3 linked regions of the Homo sapiens genome follow. The protein of the gene in region 2 interacts with the protein of the main gene of each other region in a pairwise test. Each region holds a gene or a part of one and is shown on either strand. Other genes may lie near its edges.

Evidence for each region. Proteins that work in one complex are often made in the same cells at the same time.
Region 1: the proteins of ATXN10 (region 2) and DIP2A interact in binary tests that used the Homo sapiens proteins (3 or more experiments, as listed by UniProt).
Region 3: the proteins of ATXN10 (region 2) and CENPV interact in binary tests that used the Homo sapiens proteins (3 or more experiments, as listed by UniProt).

Annotation. Positions count from the first base shown.
Region 1 is NC_000021.9:46,461,862-46,468,891, reverse strand, and holds part of DIP2A (disco-interacting protein 2 homolog A), read right to left. Parts: intron 6,422-7,030; exon of another isoform or gene 6,370-6,421; intron 6,181-6,369; exon of another isoform or gene 6,129-6,180; intron 5,827-6,128; exon of another isoform or gene 5,664-5,826; intron 1-5,663. UniProt on the Homo sapiens protein: Catalyzes the de novo synthesis of acetyl-CoA in vitro. Promotes acetylation of CTTN, possibly by providing the acetyl donor, ensuring correct dendritic spine morphology and synaptic transmission.
Region 2 is NC_000022.11:45,688,834-45,695,863, reverse strand, and holds part of ATXN10 (ataxin-10), read right to left. Parts: intron 6,153-7,030; coding exon 5,961-6,152; intron 2,869-5,960; coding exon 2,786-2,868; intron 1-2,785. UniProt on the Homo sapiens protein: May play a role in the regulation of cytokinesis. May play a role in signaling by stimulating protein glycosylation. Induces neuritogenesis by activating the Ras-MAP kinase pathway and is necessary for the survival of cerebellar neurons.
Region 3 is NC_000017.11:16,343,469-16,350,498, forward strand, and holds part of CENPV (centromere protein V), read right to left. Parts: intron 6,562-7,030; coding exon 6,463-6,561; intron 5,218-6,462; coding exon 5,148-5,217; intron 1,244-5,147; coding exon 1,129-1,243; intron 1-1,128. UniProt on the Homo sapiens protein: Required for distribution of pericentromeric heterochromatin in interphase nuclei and for centromere formation and organization, chromosome alignment and cytokinesis.

The DNA of each region.
Region 1 (7,030 bases), on a different chromosome or scaffold from region 2:
GGATATTAAAATTGAAATCACTGATATTTCTTTTTTTAAATCGACATGATTAACCTATAAGAACTCGTGCATATTTAATATATAAATTTTGATGAATTTAAAGGTAAGTATATCCCTGTGAAACCATCACCATAAACATAAACATAAACATCATCTCTAAAAGTTTCTTCCTTTCCTGTTTGTGATAAGAACATTTAACATGAGCTCTACTCTCTTAACAAATTTTTAAATATACAATACAGTATTGTTAACTATATGCACTATGCTGTACAGCAGCTCTCTAGCAGTTACTCATCCTGTATAACTGAAACTATATACCCTTTGATCAACACCTTCCAGATTCTCCCACCACCCCAGTCTCTGGCAACCACCATTCTACTCTCTGCTTCTATGAGTCTGACTATTTTAAATTTCTGACACAAGTGGGCTTGTGTAGGATTTGTTCTGGCGCCGATTTTCTCTCTTTTTTTTTTTTTTTTAGACAGGGTATCATGGAGTGCAGTGGTGCAATTTCAGGTCACTGCAGCCTCCACCTCCCAGGTTCAAGCGGTTCTCCCTGCCTCAGCCATCAGAGTAGCTGGGATTATAGGCGTGCACCACCACACCCAGCTTTTTTTTTTTTTTTTTTTTGAGACAGTCTCACTGTCACCCAGGCTGGAGTGCAGTGGCACAATCTCAGCTCACTGCAGCCTCCGGCTCCTGGGTTCAAGAGATTCTCCTGCCTCAGTCTCCCGAGTAGCTGGGATTATAGGTACTTGCCCCCATGCCAGGCTAATTTTTTTTTTTATTTAGTAGAGGCGGAGTTTCACCATGTTGCCCAGGCTGGTCTCAAACTCCTGGCCTCAAGTGATCCGTCTACCTCGGCCTCCCAAACTGCTGGGATTACAGGCATGAGCCACTGCACCCAGCCCTAATTTTCATATTTTTTAGCAGAGATGGGGTTTCACCATGTCACTCAGGCTGATCCCAAACTCCTGAGTTCAAACGATCCAACCTCCTCAGCCATCCTCTTCGACCTCCCAAAGTGCTGGGATTATAGGTGTGAGCCACTGGGCCCAGCTGGCATTGATATTTTTAAAGAAACTTAGAAATCAAAATTTTGTACAAAGACACTTGTACTGGGATAATTTACTATGAAAAAAAAAACAAACAAAACCTAAAGAGGGTATTCCCGAAACATGAATAATAAATTTTGTTAGTGCAACAGACAAGCAACTAGTCAGTAAGTGTAACTTTTAAAGATTTTCAAACATGTTTTATAAATTTAAATGCCTGATTGTCCTTACATACACAAACTGAAATAATTATTAAACTAGGCAATAGCTTTAAAATGTTACAAAAAATATAAAGAAATAGATGATGACATCCATGTCTTTCAGCTACTATGTTCTAGTTATTCAAGAGACTGAGGCAAGAAGATCATTTGAACCCAGGAGTTAAAGGCAGCAGTGAGCTATCCTCACACCACTGCACTCCCAACTGGGCAACAGAGCGAGACACTATCTTAAAAAACAAACAAACAAACAAACAAACAAAACTAATACTGTGAAATTTTTTAAATATTTAACTCATTTAAATTTTTTTTTTTTTTTTTTTGAGACGGAGTCTCGCTCTGTAGCCCAGGCTGGAGTGCAGCGGTGCGATATCGGCTCACTGCAACCTCCGCCTCCCAGGTTCACGCCATTCTCCTGCCTCAGCCTCCCGAGCAGCTGGGACTACAGGCACCCACCACCACGCCCGGCTGATTTTTTGTATTTTTAGTAGAGACAGGATTTCGCTGTGTTAGCCAGGATGGTCTCGACCTCCTGACCTCGTGATCCGCCCGCCTCGACTTCCCAAAGTGCTGGGATTACAGGCGTGAGCCACCGCGCCCGGCCTAACTCATTTAAAATTTTTAATAATAAACTGACTAGATATTAAGGTAAATAATATTTTTTACTAAAAATAAAAGATTTCTGAAAACAAAAACATTTAGTAAGAAGAGGTATTCTTTTACATTTTTGCAAGTTGCTTTAACTCTGGCTTCAGAGAAGACAATATGGATTCTCATACCTGCTCCTGTATCCAATCTGTTGTACTGTGTGGTTTTTTTGGTTGAAGTCTATGAATCAAATCCTTTTTCAGAGAGACATGCAGTTGGAAAAAGGTGGGGTGTCTCAGCAGCCTTTTCAGATCACTGTGGACATTCTTCCTTGATACAACACCAAAACCAGGCAAGGGGGAGTCTCTTAAAAAAAAAAAGTTGTGGCCGGGAGTGGTGGCTCAGGCCTGTAATCCCAGCACTTTAGGAGATCAATGCGGGCGGATCACGAGGTCAGGAGTTCGAGACCAGCCTGACCAACACGTGAAACCCAATCTCTACTAAAAATACAAAAATTAGCCAGGCATGGTGGCAGGCACCTGTAATCCCAGCTACTCAGGAGGCTGAGGTAGGAGAATCACTTCAACCTGGGAGGCAGAGGTTGCAGTGAGCTGAGATCGCGCCACTGCACTCCAGCCTGGGAGACAGAGCAAGACTCCATCTCAAAAAAAAAAAAAAAAAAAAAAAAGTTATAATGTAGAATCTATAACTCTTATCAGTGAACTTTTCATATCACTACATTAAAATCCATTGGTCTATCTTTTGAATGAATCTTTTACCCATGCACTATGACTTTGTAACGTGGTGCAATGGTGAGCTGGAAAATATTAGTTCACAAAATTATGTGGATCTTCCAAATGCTGACACATTTAATTATATAATATCAAATACTCATTCATTATATTGTCACCAATCTCATCAAAGAAGTCGTTAACTATTGAGAAACTGTCAAGCTCACTGTAGCAGATAAATTTTTTCAAAATTTTGATTTTTGCTTGAAAGCACAAATATTATCATTGGTCATAAATTGTCAGTTATTTCCTCTCATTTATTTTCCAGAAAACGTCCACCAAATACCCAAGTCTCAATAACTGCAGATTGTCTGCTACCCACTTTTTCAAGCAAAAATGGCATTTCACAATAAAAGCAGCTAGTTCGCTTTGCAACTCAAACTACACAATTGCTGTTTCTCAAAACAGGCACTGTACCTCTTTGTGCAGCAAAAGCAATTCATGTACTTCCCATTTCCTCATGAAAAGACAAAAGGCCAATTTTTTTTTTTAATTTTTACTGCTTCATCAGGGTCTGTTTAAGTGAAAGCAGCCCTTTTTGTTTTTTTAAAACTGCAAGTGGAGAGGTAGCGAATAATATAATGACTATCAGTGACACTTGGAGTCCCTGCCTCAATTTACGTTAAAGTGCCCAGCAGTTTTCCCTATTACTGCTTTTGGACCATCAGTACAAGTGTCAACACAGTGAAAACAGAAATGGCATCTTAGTATCATTATAAAAATAGTCTCCCTCTGCCTCCTGGGTTTGAGCGATTCTCCTGCCTCAGCCTCCCACGTAGCTGGGATTACAGGCACGTGCCACCATGACCAGCTAATTTTTTTTTTGTTATATTTAGTAGCAACGGGGTTTTGTCATGTTGGTCAGGCTGGTCTCGAACTCCAGACCTCAGGTGATCCAACCACCTCGGCCTCCCAAAGTGTTGGGATTACAGGAGTGAGCCACCATGCCCAGCCAAAATCTGACTTTTGACAGCTGAAATATTACCTAGGATGCAGTGGACACTGAATAATTACTGAATAAGTGAAAACAAATACAAAAACAAAAAGCAGCAAGAACTCCAAAAGAGGGGACAAATGATATGGAAGTTCTGAGAAAGCAGTCACATTAGAGATGATCAAGGAAGGTTCAAAATAAGAGGGTGCTTTGAATATTCCCTCAAAGTTTCTTTTCAGCAATTTATTCTATATTATAAAGATCCTCACCATTCTTATCCATCATTCAAAGGAAATTCTGCTTTCCTGAAACAACAAATATTGGTTCAAATTCTGAATTGTGTTCAGAAGAATTATCATCATTAAGTACCATTTAACTAAAGTGCTCTAGAAAATAATCTACATGCTGTTCCAGGAGAACTTCCCTATCTCATATTCTGACATTTGTTGTGTGTTTTCTTGAAAAAAAAAAAAAAAAAAAAAAAAAAAGACATGAATATTAAGAAAAAGGAAGAAACTCAGTGCCCAATGCAGCAGTGTTGAGCGGCAGAACCTTTAAGAGATGATCAGTGGATTAATGCTGTTATCGCAGGGACAGGTTAGTTATCAGGAATGCGTTCCAGACAAAAGGATGATTTTGGCCCCCTTCCTCTCTCGTCCACACATTCTCTTGCCTTCTCACCTTCCACCATGGGATGACAGGCCAAGAAAGTCCTTGCTAGATGCTAGTACCTTAATATTGGACTTCCATCCTCTGGAACTGTGAGAAATAAATTTTTCTTTGTAAATTACCTATATGTGGTGTTCTGTTATAGAACACAAACACAACACAAAATAGACTAAGATAGAGAGCATTTGGGGTGGCCTTTGACAGATGAGTAGAATCTGAACATGAGAACGTTTTTCTTTTTTTGAGACGAAGTTTCGCTCTTGTTGCCCAGGCTGGAGTGCAATGGTGCAATCTCGGCTCACTGCAACCTCTGCCTCCCAGGTTCAAGTGGTTCTCCTGCCTCAGCCTCCCAAGTAGCTGGGATTACAGGCATACGCCACCACGCCCGGCTAATTTTTTGTATTTAGTAGAGATGGGGTTTCACCATGTTGGTCAGGCTGGTCTGGAACTCCTAACCTCAGGTGATCCACCCGCCTCAGCCTCCCAAAGTGCTGGGATTACAGGTGTGAGCCACTGCGCCTGGCTGAACATGAGAACTTTTATATACCACAAAATATTCAAGAAGCACAACAAATGTTTATTAACACAAAGGCAATGACAGGCTGTCATTTTGAAAATTAAGAATTATGGGCCAGGCGCGATGGCTCATGCCTGTAATCCCAGCACTTTGGGAGGCCGAGGCAGGTGGATCACGAGGTCAGGAGTTCAAGACCAGCCTGGCCAATATGGTGAAATCCTGTCTCTACTAAAGATACAAAAAACTAGCCAGGCGTGATGGCGTGTGCCTGTAATCCCAGCTACTCAGGAGGCTAAGACAGGACAATTGCTTGAACCCGGGAGGTGGAGGCTGCAGTGAGCCGAGATCGCGCCACTGAACTCCAGACTGGGCAACAGAGTGAGACTCCGTCTCAAAATATACACACACACACACACACACACACACACACACACACACAAATATATCCCAGATTTTAGAAATTAAAGACAGTTAAAGAGGAAAAAAGCTTTGTGAGAGAAGTCTCTTCCTGTATACCCAGAGTTTTTTCCCCCTTTTCATTTTATTCCATCTAGACTAGAAGTCCTGCATTGTTAGAATATAAGAAATCAAGAAAAAGACTAAAGTTAAAGCTATGGAATAGACCTATTAACCAGAATAAAGTAATTGGAATGGGATAAAGGTAGCCTATTGTGTAGGAATTTCCTCTCTAACCCACTGTAGTCTATTAAAACAAAGAACAAAATACCACTGTCCATGTTTTTAAAGCAGTTCAGCAGCAATAGCTCCAAGACACGTACAGCACTGGTGTGCCAAAATCAGCTGTGAGGTGTGTCCAAGGTAATTTGTTACAGCAACAGGCAAAGCACAAAGGTTTGGGAATTAATTCTTTTTTAAATATCAAGGTTATACCTCTAATGATCTCACTTCCATCAATGAACATCCTGATAGGTTTTCAGGAACCACACATATGAATTCTTCTGTATGTGTTCATGATTGGGGGGCAGGGGGTCTAAGAAGAGTGGGGTTCCATGTACTTCTACTCTTCATCTTCATCTTAATCTGAAGCAGACTCCTAAGTCAAGAGGGCAAAACAGCCAGAAAAGTTAAGGAGCAAGAACACAGCTATGCCTTATTTCCCTCTTGGGAATCTATAACAGAAATTCAGCAAACTTGCCCTATGGAAATAAATCATAGCATTCTACCAGAACCTTCCCTCAGGGCCAACGCCAATCACTATGGTTGATGATGAGAATGCAGTGAGGATGCTGGAGAATAAGGCCAGGTGTGAGGTATGAAGAAAGGCAGAGGATACTTTCAACAGGCTGAGGGGAAGGCATGCAGGATTTTCTAGATTATTCAGGTATCACTCATTACCAGTTTCTGTTGAAGACAGCATCTTTGTCACTGTTAAGCTTCTTCTTCCAACCTACCAAGCACAGTGACAACTCTTAAGTTTTAGGCAATTTCTCACTTAGATAAATGTGAATGCTATAAAAAAGTTACACTATTTTGACAATATATAAAAATTATAACAATGAAACACTAATGTTGGTTGTTTTAGGACTATAACTCATTACTAATATCTCCCTTTAATTATATAAATAAAACACCTTACCAGTTTCGAAGCATTTTCACACACACTATGTGACTGAATCTTGACAATAAACCTGGAATGTCAATAAAGCTGGTATTCACCCCCTTTTACAGCTAACTAAACCCACGTTTAGAGACATTGTAATCCACAGGAGATTCACAGACACTTTACCAGATGCCCACCACTGTGTGAAGAAGCCAAAAATCTGCCTAAAACAAAGTCCTTACCAGTAAGCATCTCCAAATCCAACAGGGAGAGCCCACGTCAACAACAACCACCACATAAACTACATAAGCCAGCATTAACCTGTGGAAGCGCCCTGGAAGCAGGTCCACGTGTGACTGTGCCTAAGTAATCACTGACCTATTTTGGCCAAAAGAAAAGTGTCAGGCCAGTCTAGGAGCAGGGAAAGAAGCCAAGAAGCCAGAGCTTCCACCTCCTTGGCTGCCACTCTACTACTCTGTTCTCTGCTGTCTTCCCTTTAACACTTTTTTTTGAGACAAGGTCCCACTCTGTCTCCCAGGCTGGAATGCAGTGACACTATAAAGGCTCACAACCTCGTCAGGTGATCCTCCCACCTCGGCCCCTCAAGTAGCTGGGACTACAGGCACACACCACCATGCCCAGCCAATTTTTTTTTTTTTTTGGAAGAGGCAGGGTCTCCCTATGTTGCCTAGGCTGG
Region 2 (7,030 bases):
CATCACCTCTAGTTCTTGTCTATCTACCAAGAGAAGCACACATATTAACATCAATAGAAATATGCCTCACGTGGCCAGGTGCGGTGGTTCATGCCTGTAATCCCAGCACTTTGAGAGGCCGAGGTGGGTAGATTATGAGGTCAGGAGTTCAAGACCTGCCTGGCCAAGGTGAAACCCCATCTCTAATAAAAAAATACAAAAAATCAGCCGAGTGCGGCGGCAGGCGCCTGTAATCCCAGCTACTCGGGAGGCTGAGGCAGGAGAATCGCTTGAACCCGGCGGGAAGGCGGTGGTTGCAGCGAGCCAATATCGCACCACTGCACTCCAGCCTGGGCGACAGAGTAAGACTCCATCTCAAAAAAAAAAAAAGAAATATGCCTCATGTTATATGCAAAGTACAGGCATTAAAACTGTATATAAAACAATTTGTAAGTCAAATAATATTTTAAATGCAACTGGAGACTTCTCATTTAAAGGTTATATTCATTGAATTATAAGGTAAAGACGTTATTACAATGACAATTTTTTTTTTTTTTTTTGAGGTGGAGTCTCGCTCTGTCGCCCAGGCTGGAGTTCAGTGGCGGCAATCTCGGCTCACTGCAAGCTCTGCCTCCTGGGTGCATGCCATTCTCCTGCCTCAGCCTCCCCAGTAGCTGGGACTACAGGTGCCCACCACCATGCCCGGCTAATTTTTTGTATTTTTACTAGAGACGGGGTTTCACCGTGTTAGCCAGGTAGATCTCCTGACCTCGTGATCCGCCCACTTCAGCCTCCCAAAGTGCTGGGATTACAGGCGTGAGCCACTGCGCCCAGCCAACAACAACAAAATTTAACCTATAATTTAGTACATCTAACTTATCCACCTGGAAATTTACATTAAAATTTTCTGGGGTTTTGTTTTTTTTTTTTTTTTTTTTTTTTTTGAGACAGAGTCTTGCTCTGTCACCCAGGCTGGAGTGCAGCGGCGTGATCTCAGCTCACTGCAACTTCCACCTCCCAGGCTCAAGCAATCTTCCTACCTCAGCCTCCAAGTAGCTGCGACTACAGGCGTGTGCCACCATGCCCGGTTCTTTTTTTTTTCGAGACAGAATTTCACTCTTGTCACCCAGGCTGGAGTGCAATGGCACGATCTCGGCTCACTACAACCTCCATCTCCTAGGTTCAATCAACTCTCCTGCCTCAGCCTCCTGAGTAGCTGGGATCACAAGCATGCGCCATCACACCCAGCTAATTTTTGTATTTTTAGTAGAGAGGGGGTTTCACCATGTTGGCCAGGCTGGTCTTGAACTCCTGACCTCAAATGATCCGCCCGCCTCAGCCTCCCAAAGTGCTGGGATTACAGGCTTGAGCCACTGCACCCAGCCTTTGTATTTTTTTGGAAACGGGGTTTCACCATGTTACCCAGGCTGGTCTCAAACACCTGAGCTCAAGCAATCTGTCCACCTTGGCCTCTCCAAGTGCTAGAATTACAGGCATGAGCCACGGCACCCAGCCTACATTAAGATTTTTTTATCAAATAATTTAGGTTTACCCATAAAGTATTTCAATTCCTGGCACAAAGAGATCATAAATTAAAAATCTACGTTTTTTTTTTAAACATTATGTTAAGATAATAACCACTGTCCAAAGGAAAGATGTTGATGCTAGAAGAACAAAGACCAAAACCATTCTACTAATGAGTCTAAAGAAGTGTGGTGTTTCTCTTAATCCCAAGTCAACAACCGTTAACAATCAGAGCTAAGTTCCATTTTCATCACACTAGATACTTGACTTAGACACTTAACATGTGGTTCCCCTCAACGGAATGTGAGTTCTCTAAGGACAGACACTTTTTGTCTGTTTTGGTCACTGTTTGAATCACACCCAAAACCTGGACCAGGGCCTGTCACATTCATAAATATTAAAAGTCTTACCACAGACTGAATGGCTTAAACAACAGACATTTATTTTTACACAGTTCTGGTGGCTGGAGGTCCAAGATCAAGGTGTCGAGAGGGCTGATTTCTTCTGAGGTCTCGCTCCTTGGCCTGTAGATGGTCATCTTCTCCCTGTGTCTTCACATGGTCTCTACTCTGAGCATGGCCATGTCCTAATTTCCTCTTCCTATAAGGATACCAGTCATATACCCTCATTTTACCTTAATTACCTCTTTAAAGATCCTATCTCCAAATTCAGTCACATTCTGGGTATTGGGGGTTAGGACCATGCTATGATCTGAATATCTGTGCCCCTCCGAAATTCCTATGCTGAAATCTAATCCCCAACTTGCTAGTATAAGATGGGGCCTTTGGGAAGTGACTAGGTCATGATGGTGCAGCCCTCGTGAATGGGATTAGTGCCCTTATAAAAGGGGCCCAGAGAGCTTGTTTATGCCTTCTGCCTTCCACCTTCCACCACAGGAGAACAAAGCAAGAGGCACCATCTATGAAGACGAGAGCAGCCCCCGCAAAACACCCAATCTGCTGGTACCTTAATCTTGGACTTTCCAGCCTCCAGAACTGTAAGCAATACATTTCTGTTGTTTATAAACTACCCAGCCTAAGGCATTTTGTTATAGCAACTGGAACAGACAGACTTCAACATACAAATGTGAAAGGAACAAAATTCAGCCATTCAGGAAGGGAAGTTGATACAACTTTATAATTCTTTAATAATTCACTATTAAAGTTTCCCTATCTCATGAAATACAGAACATGTGTTTCAATGAATGATGTTAATACTCAAAGTACTGGTTTTGAACCCTTTATAAAGATATAAATAATCCATGAATTATATTGCATGCTACCTGTCAACAGAGATTCCTGTTCCACTCGCAGTTCACGAAACAGAAGAATCAAATCAACAGCAACACCAATCGTATCCAAGTTCCTGGGTTTTTTAAAAAAGACAAAATTAGACATGTTCATTCATTCATATATTGTCTATGGCTGTTTTTGCACTACAATGGGAGAGCTGAGAAATCTGACAGAGATTACAAAGCCTAAATTATTTATTATCTGGCTCTTTACAGGAAAAATATAGCAACCCTAGCAGTAGAGGTTATATTTACATGCAGAGCTAACTGCTTCCAACAGCTTTCTTTGAGTACTTCCTGAAGTTTCCCATGACTCAGATTCTTTGCTTTATTGTATTTTACCCCATTCCATGCATTCTTGGCAAAAACAGTCCCAGTCCACACAAAGTGCAAAAGATGTAAAAAGATCTAGGCTTTAATAGCATCACACCTTTTGATGAACTCTTTAACGACTTAAAGTAAAACATCAGAAAAATATGTACTAGTTGCAATCTGAATCTTGACTGGCTCAGAAATACTGGCCTTAGTTAAGCTTGGCCACAAAGTCTTTACTAGAATCTTTGTAGTATTTCTAACTAGAAAATTCTTTTCTGAAAATTGCTGCCCTAAATGGTTGAAATTTTCCTTTAAAAATCAACAGTGAATAATAATACAATCCTAGAAGGGAAGAGGCAGAAAAATTAACACCCTTAAATGTTCATTTTCATTTCCGCCCAACCATAAGTTGCATGCAATAAAAAGATATCACAAACAGCACAGCCCTTGCTTTGCTGGCCCTACCAAAAGACCACCGATAACTTACTTGTCATAGTATTTATTTTTGTAATGTTAGAATTTTTATAGTTTGCATATATTACTCAAAAAAGAAAATAAAAATTGACTGCTTTGAAAGAAAGTATTAACATAAACTTGTGTTGTACATTCATTCCTGAGGCAGAGGCAGAAACATTTAATGTTTACTGAGCACACAATGTGCATTAGGCATTTACATAAGTAATCTCATTTACACCCCATAACCAGCCTGTTTGGAAGACATTGCTTACCTAGTTTTACAGAGGACAAAACTGATACTCAGGAAGACCAAGTCACCTGTCCAGGGTCAAGATGGAGCAGTCATCCACAACAAGACCAGTGTGTAAGGCTCAGGACAGCAAGGGTAGACTGCATTTTTTTTTTTGAGACGGAGTCTCACTCTGTTGCCCAGGCTGAAGTGCAGTAGCCCAATCTTGGCTCACTGCAACCTCCGCTTTCCCCGTTCAAGTGATTCTCCTGCCTCAGCCTCCAGAGTAGCTGGGACTACAGGTGTGTGCCACCACACCCAGCTAATTTTTTATTTTTAGTAGAGACAGGGTTTCACCATGCTGGCCAGGCTGGTCTCGAACTCCTGACCTCATGATTCACCCGCCTCGGCCTCCCAAAGTGTTGGGATTACAGGCGTGAGCCACCGCGCCTGGCCCAGACTGCTTTTGAGCTTAAGCTCAGAACAGTAAGGGCAGACTGCTTGTTAAGCTTAAGCTTTAGAGTCAGATGTCTGGATATGGAGAGAATGTTCCCAGCCTCTCTCACTTAACAAGTGACTCTCAGACAAGTTATTTAACCTCTCCAAGTTACAGTTTCATCTTTTGTAAAAATGAAAAAATTTCTTGAGTTTGTTCTAAGAATTAAAGAAGATACTACAAGCAAAACCCTTGGGACAAAGCCCAATGCCGAAGGCAGGCTCAACGAATGCTCACTCCCTTCCCCACCAAGATTAGCCAAGCACAAAGGTGTATCTGCCAGCCACAGTCAAAAGTTAGTTCTACGGCTCTCCTTTCCTTCCCCATCACACTAGAGCACCTTGTGACTGGAAAAGGACAAAAGAAACTAGCCTTCTGGCCAGATGCTTCTAGCATATAACTAGTTATGTTTTAGAATGTAGACTATTATTATCAAGATTATTGTTGTTTCTATCCATTTATCCTCAAATGGATGGCAGGTTTGGTTTAGTATTGAAGTTACACGACTCACTTTTTACCCTCTCTCCTTTGATCTTAAAAATCTCATTAATCATATCAAAGCCTCGGGTATATGTGTCTAACCGAAGGGAGTCCCTCAAGTGGCTTCTGGACCAGCCCAAGCTTACCCGTCACAGTGGTGACAGGGAAGCCTGGAGGCTCTGTCTACATCCAAGTCCAGGAAGGAAAGTGAGCATCCTGTTTGTGGCTTCTGACTTCAAGTAAAAATTTTTAATAAAAAGCAGGTTCCACAAAATCAAAGAAGAAAGATGCTGTGTTCTGGGAGGAGACGGTAACACGTAAAAGCAAAGAAGAGCACTGGACAGCTCGCCTGCTCATGTTTTAACTACTTTTAAAAATGTGCGCATCATAAAATAGGTGGAAGCAGAGCTTGGAACTTTACATGATCTTTAGGAAAGACAGGTCATCTTGTAAATTTACAAAATATGCTTCTTGTCCAAACACAAGAGTAACAAATTAAAACATTAAAAGTAATTAAAACATTTACAACCTGAGGTCAAGAACTGCATATAAACTTAGGCAGGTAAAATCTAGGAACAAAGACTCAAAATCAGCTTCAAAACACTATGAAGAACCAAATACCTCAAAACATGTGATAAAAACAAACAAGAAATCTAACCCCTAATGTTAAACACACTCCATTATTTTATACACTAGTCAGAGAGACTCCAATGGCAAGGCCTGTAGAGGGCCTCTCCCAGCAGATGTAAAGGGCAATCCTGCAATAACAGTGGGTGATACTATCATGCCAGAACAACTTTTTTTTTTTTTTTTTCCCTGAGACAGGGTCTCACAATGTGGCCCAGCCTGCAGCAATGGCATCATCTCAGATTACTGCAACCTCTGCCTCTCCCTGGCCCAAGCAATCCTCCCACCTCAGTCTCCTGAGCAGTTGGGACTACAGGTGTGCGCCACCATGTCCAGCTAATTTTTTGTATTTTTTTTGTAGAGACAGGGTCTCACCATGTTGCCCAGGCCGGTCTTGAACTCCTGGACTCAAGCAATCCTCCTGCCTCAGCCTCCCAAAATGCTGGGATTACAGGCATGAGCCACCTTACCCAGCCCAAAACAACTTCTAACAGATAAACCAAATGACAGAACCAGCATGCACATATACAAAGAAACAGAATCCAAGGTACGTGTGTAACTACCTGATTGAATTCTGGTTCACAGAACACTCTATGCAAGCATTGCGAAGACACCTGAAGCATTCTGTTATTAACTGCAGACTGGAAGCCAGGTTTTCCACTTGGGATGGATCTCTGCAGGCAAGCTCAACAGCATGAGAAGATTTCTTTAGGATATCCAGAACTCTTTGGAAGATAGTCCTGGGTGCTGTTTCTCTGAAAAAGGATAAAATTATCACGAATCAGAAAAAAAAGATTATGATTTCCAAATGTCCTATTCAGAAAACTGCTTTTATCTACTATTGTGGGGAGGTACGCTACGTTTATCTGCTTTAGCTCCTTAATTTACAACACCAAATAAAAGATCTACACATATTGAGCACTTACTATGCACCAGACACTGTTCTTGTCACTTCTCATGTATTATCTCAGTCTCTGCAACAGCCTTATGAGGCCAACACTGTCCTCTCCATTTACAGATAAGGTAAGTGAAGTAGAGATGGTAAGTAACTTGCACAAATCACTCAGCCAGTAACTGGCAGAGACACAAGGCCAAGTGAAGCACTCTGGCCTGAGCACTTCCACTACCCATGACAACCCAAATCCCAGTTCCAGTGACTGCTCATGCTTATGGATCTACCCTGAATCAGAACAGAGTATCTTTATTTAATGTTCTAGACAGAGAATATATTCTGGTCCTCTGTCACCCAATATGTAGCTAAGTTCAGTTATAAGAAACAATATTCCTGTAGGACAAGGATACTATCTACTCTGTAGACACAGTGAGGCTGACAACACACACACCAAACTTCTACAGTCAACTACATAGATGGGAGAGAAAGGAGAGGGGGAGAATGTAAAGTGTGCCTGTTCTTCCACCAAGAATGTATGCCCAGGGAGAAAGATGAACCTGTGGTTGTACCCTCTGGGCATCTCAGTCTCTGCGTGCCTCTCATGCCAGGAGTACTGCCTGCACTGGCTATCATTCCAGAGCTCTAAAGATAAGAATTTTTTGTGCAACATTGCACCTAAATGCAAGCCAACTTCCTCATTCCATAAATCCCCTAAAGAAACAGCAAATCTCTTTTAACGTT
Region 3 (7,030 bases), on a different chromosome or scaffold from region 2:
AATACAGGCGTGCGCCACCAAGCCTGGCTAATTTTGCATTTTTAGTAAAGATGGGGTTTCTCCATGTTGGTTAGGCTGGTCTCGAACTCCCGACCTCAGGTGAGCCACCATGCCTGGCCTCAGATAGATAACTTTCTAAGAATTAAATGTCTTCCCATTTGCACAGGATTTCATACTTTTCAACTCTTTCCTGTTCTGCAAGGTAGACAGGAAGGAGTCTCCATGTGACAGATGAGGAACAGGAGGCCCTGAAGCAATGGGGGAGCGGTAAGGATGACATCCTGCCCTGCCCTGCCTCCCCCACCTCCCCTGTCCGCTCCCCACCACCATAAGGCAAAAGACACTGACAGTCATAGCTGCTCTCGCAGCTCTGGAGGCTGCACTGACACAACAAGAGTCCTCAGAACATCTTCCACCTCTGCTTTCCCCTTCAATTCACACTATAGTTGGTATGATTCTCAACAACTGTCAGAGGGTTAGTTTTATTACTCCCCAGACCCAAGCAGGCCCTGAAGCGGGGCTTGGAGGGTTCCCTGCTTGTTTATTATTTTTTAAAAAGAACAGAGATACGGTTTTGCTATGTTTCCCAGGCTGGTCTCAAACTCCTGAGCTCAAGAAATCCTCCCACCTTGGCCTCCCAAAGTGCTGGGATACAGGTGTGAGCCACCGCAGCCAGCCAGTCCTGCCTAATTTTTGAACAACCAAAAAGCTTTCAAATGCCATTATCAATGCTCCCCAATCTTGCCTCCTTCACTCCCTTAACCCCTGTCATTATTAAAGCTGCCTCCCCTGGCCCCACAAGCCCATCTCCTCACCCCTCTCCTCCCTACCCTTCAACACCATCCCCAGCAACACCAGCTCTACCAGCACCAGTGAATAAGAATCACAACCTGGATGGGCTCCAAGTCCAACTTCACCACATTCAGATATGGGATTCAGAAAAGTTTCACCGGAGCCCGACTCACATTCTATCATGTGGAAAGCGCTCTGCTGAGGAGCCCTGTTCCTCTAAGATACGCATGTGACAGGGTCTAGTCAGCATCCCACCTGTCCAAATAAGACTTTAAATGAGAGCACCATGGGCCTCTCTGTGTCCCCCTGAGCTTGCAGTCCATCCCCTTTACTCACCGAAGCCTCCGGGGTTTGATCGTGGAGTATAGAAGCTCTGAACGCCACATCTCTTACAGAAGGTATGCTGGGCTTTGTGAGTATTGAACGTGTAAGTCGTTATGTGCTCAGCTCCCTAGGTGAAAACAGACAAACGGTATTCTTTTTTACAAAGAGATTTATTTATTTAATTTATTTATTTATTTATTTATTGAGACAGAGTCTCCCACTGTCTCTCAGGCTGGAGTGCAGTGGCGCAATCTTGGCTCACTGCAACCTCCACCTGCATGGGTTCAAGAGATTTTCCTGCCTCAGCCTCCCAAGTAGCTGGGATTATAGGCGCGTGCCCCCATGCCCAGCTAATTTTTTGTATTTTTAGTACAGACAGGGTTTCACCATGTTGGCCAGGTTGGTCTCGAACTCCTGACCTCATGATTCACCCACCTTGGCCTCCCAAAGTGCTGGGATTACAGGTGTGAGCCACTGCGCCTGGCCCCAAAGACATTTATTTTTATGTCACTTAAAAAATACACCTTTGTAGCCGGGTGTGGTGGCAGGCGCCTGTAGTCCCAGCTACTCGGGAGGCTGAGGCAGGAGAATGGCATGAACCTGGAAGGCCGAGCTTGCAGTGAGCCGAGATCATGCCACGGCACTCCAGCCTGGGCAACAGAGCGAGACTCCGTCTCAAAAAAAAAAAAAAAAAAAACACCTTTGGCCAGGCATGGTGGCTCATGCCTGTAATCCCAACACTTTGAGGCCGAGGCAGGCGGATTGCTTGAGCCCAGGAGTTCAAGACCAACCTGGGCAACATGGCAAAACCCTGTTTCTACAAAAAAATATAAAAATTAGCCAGGTGCAGTGGCACACATCTGTAGTCCCAGCTACCTGGGAGGCTGAGGTAGGAGCATCAGTTGAGCCTGGGGAAGTAGAGGCTGCAGTGGGCTGAGATCGCACCATTAAAAAAAAAAATCTTGAAATAACTTAATGGCAGGAGCTCTTCTGTAGGGCTCTTTGTACTAAGAGGCCATTTCCTATCTCCAGAAGAGACTGGGACCTTCTTGAGGACAGAGACCCATCTACACTATCCAGAGACATGTCAGTCTGGAGCGTGACAGCTCACAGCTTCCCTTAGGTCAACGGCATACAGAATTCAGCCTTGAGCCTTCCCTGATACATCACATCAGGGAGGGAAAGTGCTTGCTTCCCAGGGCCTATGTGGAGAGACAGTTCACCCAAGGGACTGGCTCTCCATGTCCCCAAACAGAACGGCTCAAGGTCTTAAGAAAACTGATGGCTGTGCTTAATTTATCCACAAAGGACAAACCAGGAAAAAAATATTTGCCAGACGTCATAGACAGGCTAATTTCCTTAATGGATAATACAAACGGGAGACTGGACAAAGGACATGAACGGACAGTTCAGATAGAAAGAAAAATAAATCACTCTTTAGCCTATGAAATGCTCACCAAAGGAACTTCAATGAGATGTATTTCACTGTCAGGTGGGCAAAATCAAAGCCGTTAACATGGTATTGACAAGTATGTAGAGAAATATGTGCTCACATATATCAGTCACAGGAACAGGAATTGGTACAATTTAGCAACATCTACCAAAATTTTAAAGTGTACATATGCTTTAGCACACAATTCCATTTCTTGAAATTTATTATACAGATATATTCCAAATGTCTCAATGACATAGGTATATAGATACTATAGCACTGTTTATGAAGGCTAAAGATTGGAAAAATTGAAAATGTCCCTCAATAGAGGACCGGTTAGGCATTATGGACACTCATAAAATGAAATATTCTCCAACTTTTGAGAAGAATGAGACAGCTCTACAAAACTAACATGGAACAATTGCCAAAGTTACAAAGTAAAGCAAGGTATAGGCCAGGCGCAGTGGCTCACGCCTGTAATCCCAGCACTTTGGGAGGCCAAGGTGGGCAGATCACTTGAGGTCAGGAGTTCAAGACCAGCCTGGCCAACATGGTGAAACCCTGTCTGTACTAAAAATGTAAAAATTAGCCAGATGTGGTGGCGGGCACCTGTAGTCCCAGCTACTCAGGAGGCTGAAGCAGGAGAATCACTTGAGCCTGGGAGGCGGAGGTTACAGTGAGCCGAGATCACACCACTGCACTCCAGCCTGGGCAACAGAGTGAGACTGTCTCAAAAAAAAAGTTAAGCAAGGTATAAAACAACGTACGTGGTATGCTACCATTTCTTTTTTTTTTTTTAAGGCTATATACTGGTATGTGTGGTGTTTTTGTTTTGTTTTGTTTTGTTTTTTTGAGACAAGATCTCACTCTGTTATCCAGGCTGGAGTGCAGTGGTATGACGACAGCTTACTGCAGCCTTGACCTCCCAGGATCAAGTGATTCTCCCACCTCAGCCTCCCGAGTACCTGGGACTATAGGCATGCAACACCACACCTAGCCGATTTTTTATTTTTTGTAGACATGGGGGTCTCGCTATGTTGTCCAGGCTGGTGTTGAACTCCTGGGCTCAAGTGATCTGCCTGCCTTGGCCTTCCAAAGTGCTGGGACTACAGGCATGAGCTACTGTGCCTGGCCTGTATGTGCTTTTATATGCATATGTATCTTTGAAGAGGGATCCAAGAAACAGTGGCTTACCTTTAGGGAGAGAAATCAGACAGCTGAAGGGGAAGGGGTGGAGGTTTCTTATCCTTGTTAACCCTCTTTACGCTTCCCCAGCCATACCGTCCAGAATTGTGCTTCCTATAGAAATAGCTCCCTGAGGAGCCTTGCTCACTCCATAGCCACTGCAGCACAGAAAAGCAGCGAAGGACTGCCAAGTGGTCCCAAGCCATCCAGCATTATCTGGATGGAATTAAAGCCCCGCCCAACCCCACATTACCCATAATGTGCTAAAAGTCTTTTTTAAAAAATCTGTATTCTTTAACCTGGAGATTTTCTTTCTCTCTTTTTTTTTAACTGCTCCTTGTAGAGCAGGGTGTAGGAAGTGTGCCCAGAATAGCCAGAGAACTTATTTCTAAGAGAATTGATCCTAAAGAAGAAATTTCTAAATTGTCAAAAATGTATACCAAGGAGGTTCACCAGTGTTGTTGATAATCAGAAAAAAACGGGACTCAACTGCAATGATGCAGAGACAGTGATGGGGTAAGTAGACCAGGAAATCGGCTGTGGGGAAGAGGGAGACTGGGGCATGGGGACAGTAGGGAAAGATTTTTCACTGTGTATATACACATTTTCTTCTACCTTTCAAATTTTGTACCAAGTACAAAAAATTCCCCAAAATAATAAAATTAAAGTTACAAATAAGTATATAAGCTTTTCATTGGGAAATGAGATAAGCAGTTTATCAACAAAAAGAATGGTAAAATTCTACTTAATAAACATAAGACAATAGGTTTAGATGTATTTCTCAGAGTAGAAAATAATACACAAAGACAGACACCAAAATATTAACAGTGGTTACCTTTAGTTGACAGGATTTGGGTGATTTTATTGTTTTTTGATTCTCTGAATTTGAAAATGTTTCCACAATACCAAATAGGCCTCCAAAAAATAAAGGTAAAAAATAACACAACCTTTTATTTTTTATTTTCATTTTTTTTGAGATGGAGTTTCACTCGTCACCCAGGCTGGAGTGCAATGGTGTGATCTCGGCTCACTGCAACCTCCACCTCCCAGGTTCAAGTGATTCTCCTGCCTTGGCCTCCCAAGTAGCTGGGATTACAGGCATGCACTACAACGCCCAGCTAATTTTTGTATTTTTAGTAGAGATAGGGTTTCACCATGTTGGCCAGGCTGGTCCTCAACTCCTGACTTCAGGTGATCCATCCATCTTGGCCTCCCAAAGTGCTGGGATTACAGGCGTGAGCCACTGTGCCGGGCCCACCTTTTAAATGTCAACCTGAAACCAAAGCCCGTGAGAGGCCCTGCTATGCTCCAGGCCCCTCCCATGCTACAGACGGCATGCTAACAGTTGGGTGGGGGGTCCTGTAAATCTCACCAATGGGTTCTGCACTCCTTGACCCTGCTCTTAAGCACTGACCTTCAGGAGCTTGAAGCGAGAAGCTGGAACAATGAAGTGTCTATTCTGCTTCTTCTTGCAAATGCTGCAACTACAGAAAGACAGAGCAAATTCCAGATTGTGAGCAGCCACCTGCATCCTCTATGCCTGAGCGGCCCAGCCATGAGAGCCAGCCGACCCCACAGATGATGCCCCTTTCAGCACCATCCAGGGCCGAGGAGCTGGGGCAAAGGCCTGGATAGCAGTGCCTCTGGTTTGCAGGTACAGCAGAGCCCAGGGGGGTCCCAAGTCAGCAGTCGAGGTTCTGCAATGCTCAGAACACAGGACCAACAGACAGGTCTGTACTGCCCACCCCTCAGTTCTTTACAGTGAAGAGAAGCGCTGGACTTCAGAGACACTTAGGAAACAAATTTCAGACACTGCTACAACCTGATGTCTCTGAGACATCCACACCAAAAATGGACAAGGAAGTTTAGGTTTCCCTCTTTCTTCATCACCACGTCACAAGAAGTCCAGCTCCAAGTAAAACACGTCCCCAGAATTACCATCTCTGGAATTAAACTGAAGTCCCCTCTTTTCAGGCCACCTTTGAAAAAGTTCTAATTTAGCACAGAATCCTCTCACAAGTTATTCCACAGTGCTTCTTTTCCAATCTGGACTCTATTGTTAGTAGCCTGGTCAGTTCTCCATTTGAGTAATTCCATCGTATGTGCTTATTATTCATATATAATTCCGGTACCTAGGGGCAAAAAGGACTGGATGCTGTTAAATAATTAGCTGCATGCCAACTTTGGGTCCCAAAGCCAGAGCCTGTCGTCCCTGCTCCATCATAACGCCGGGGAAGGTGGTACAAATCAGGCCCTCCACAGCCAGCAGTGCCATCTGCCTCAACCGAAGAGCAGAGCGAGAGTGGAGGGCCTGGGGAGCCTCCAGGTGTATACACCCTTTACTAACATACCCTCCAACTCTCCCCAACTCTAGACTTCTATGAAGATTCTGCCCAAGGCTTTCCACTCAGTACCCAGCCAGGCACACCTGCAGCTAACCGCCCCCGGCTCCTCAGCAGTGTCAGTCTGAGGGTGATGCTGCCACAAGCCACAAGCCCTGAGGACCCTGCTCTGTGTCACCTGGGCCATGCTGTTGAAGCTCTGTGATGAGCCATATAAAAGGAACAAAAATAGAACAATGAACCTTTCTGTCCCCATCACCTGACTTCAACAGTTACCAGCCCAAGGCCAATGTTTCCTCTGTACCCCAACTCCCCAGATTATTTTGAAATATTGCATTTTAACTCTGAAATTCTTTTAAGCCAATTTAGGGAAAAAAAAATACTCACTTGCAGTCAAATATATGCAAGTCTGCTGAGGCCCAAACTTCAAAACGAACTGCTCCACAGTGGCAGCCTCCTGTGTGCTTCACCAGGCCCTGGTATTCACTAAATGAAACAAAAATCAGAAAGATAATAATTTCTGAATAGCTGCCTCCTGCTCTCTTTTTGTTGCTGAAAGAAAGACAGAAGATTAGACAAAAGTCTTTTCTACATGACAACCAGATGCATTTCTGCTTTTAAGGAGGCACTGTCAATTTCCTAAGTGAAGAATGGTTTCAGCACCTTCTTTGTCCATGAGCTCTCTTTTCACCAATTTCTTAAATTATATTAAGTTGCAAAATAAAACATTCCAAACATTTCGAAAATGTGAGGGATCCTAACCCACCACCAGACATTTTTATTTATATGTCAAATACTAAATTTTTTTTTTTTTTTTTGAGATGGAGTCTCAGTCTATTGCCCAGGCTGGAGTACGGTGGCACGATCTTGGCTCACTGCAACCTCTGCCACCTGGGTTGAAGCAATTCTCCAGCCTTAGCCTCCCAAGTAGCTGGGATTACAGGCGCCTGCCACC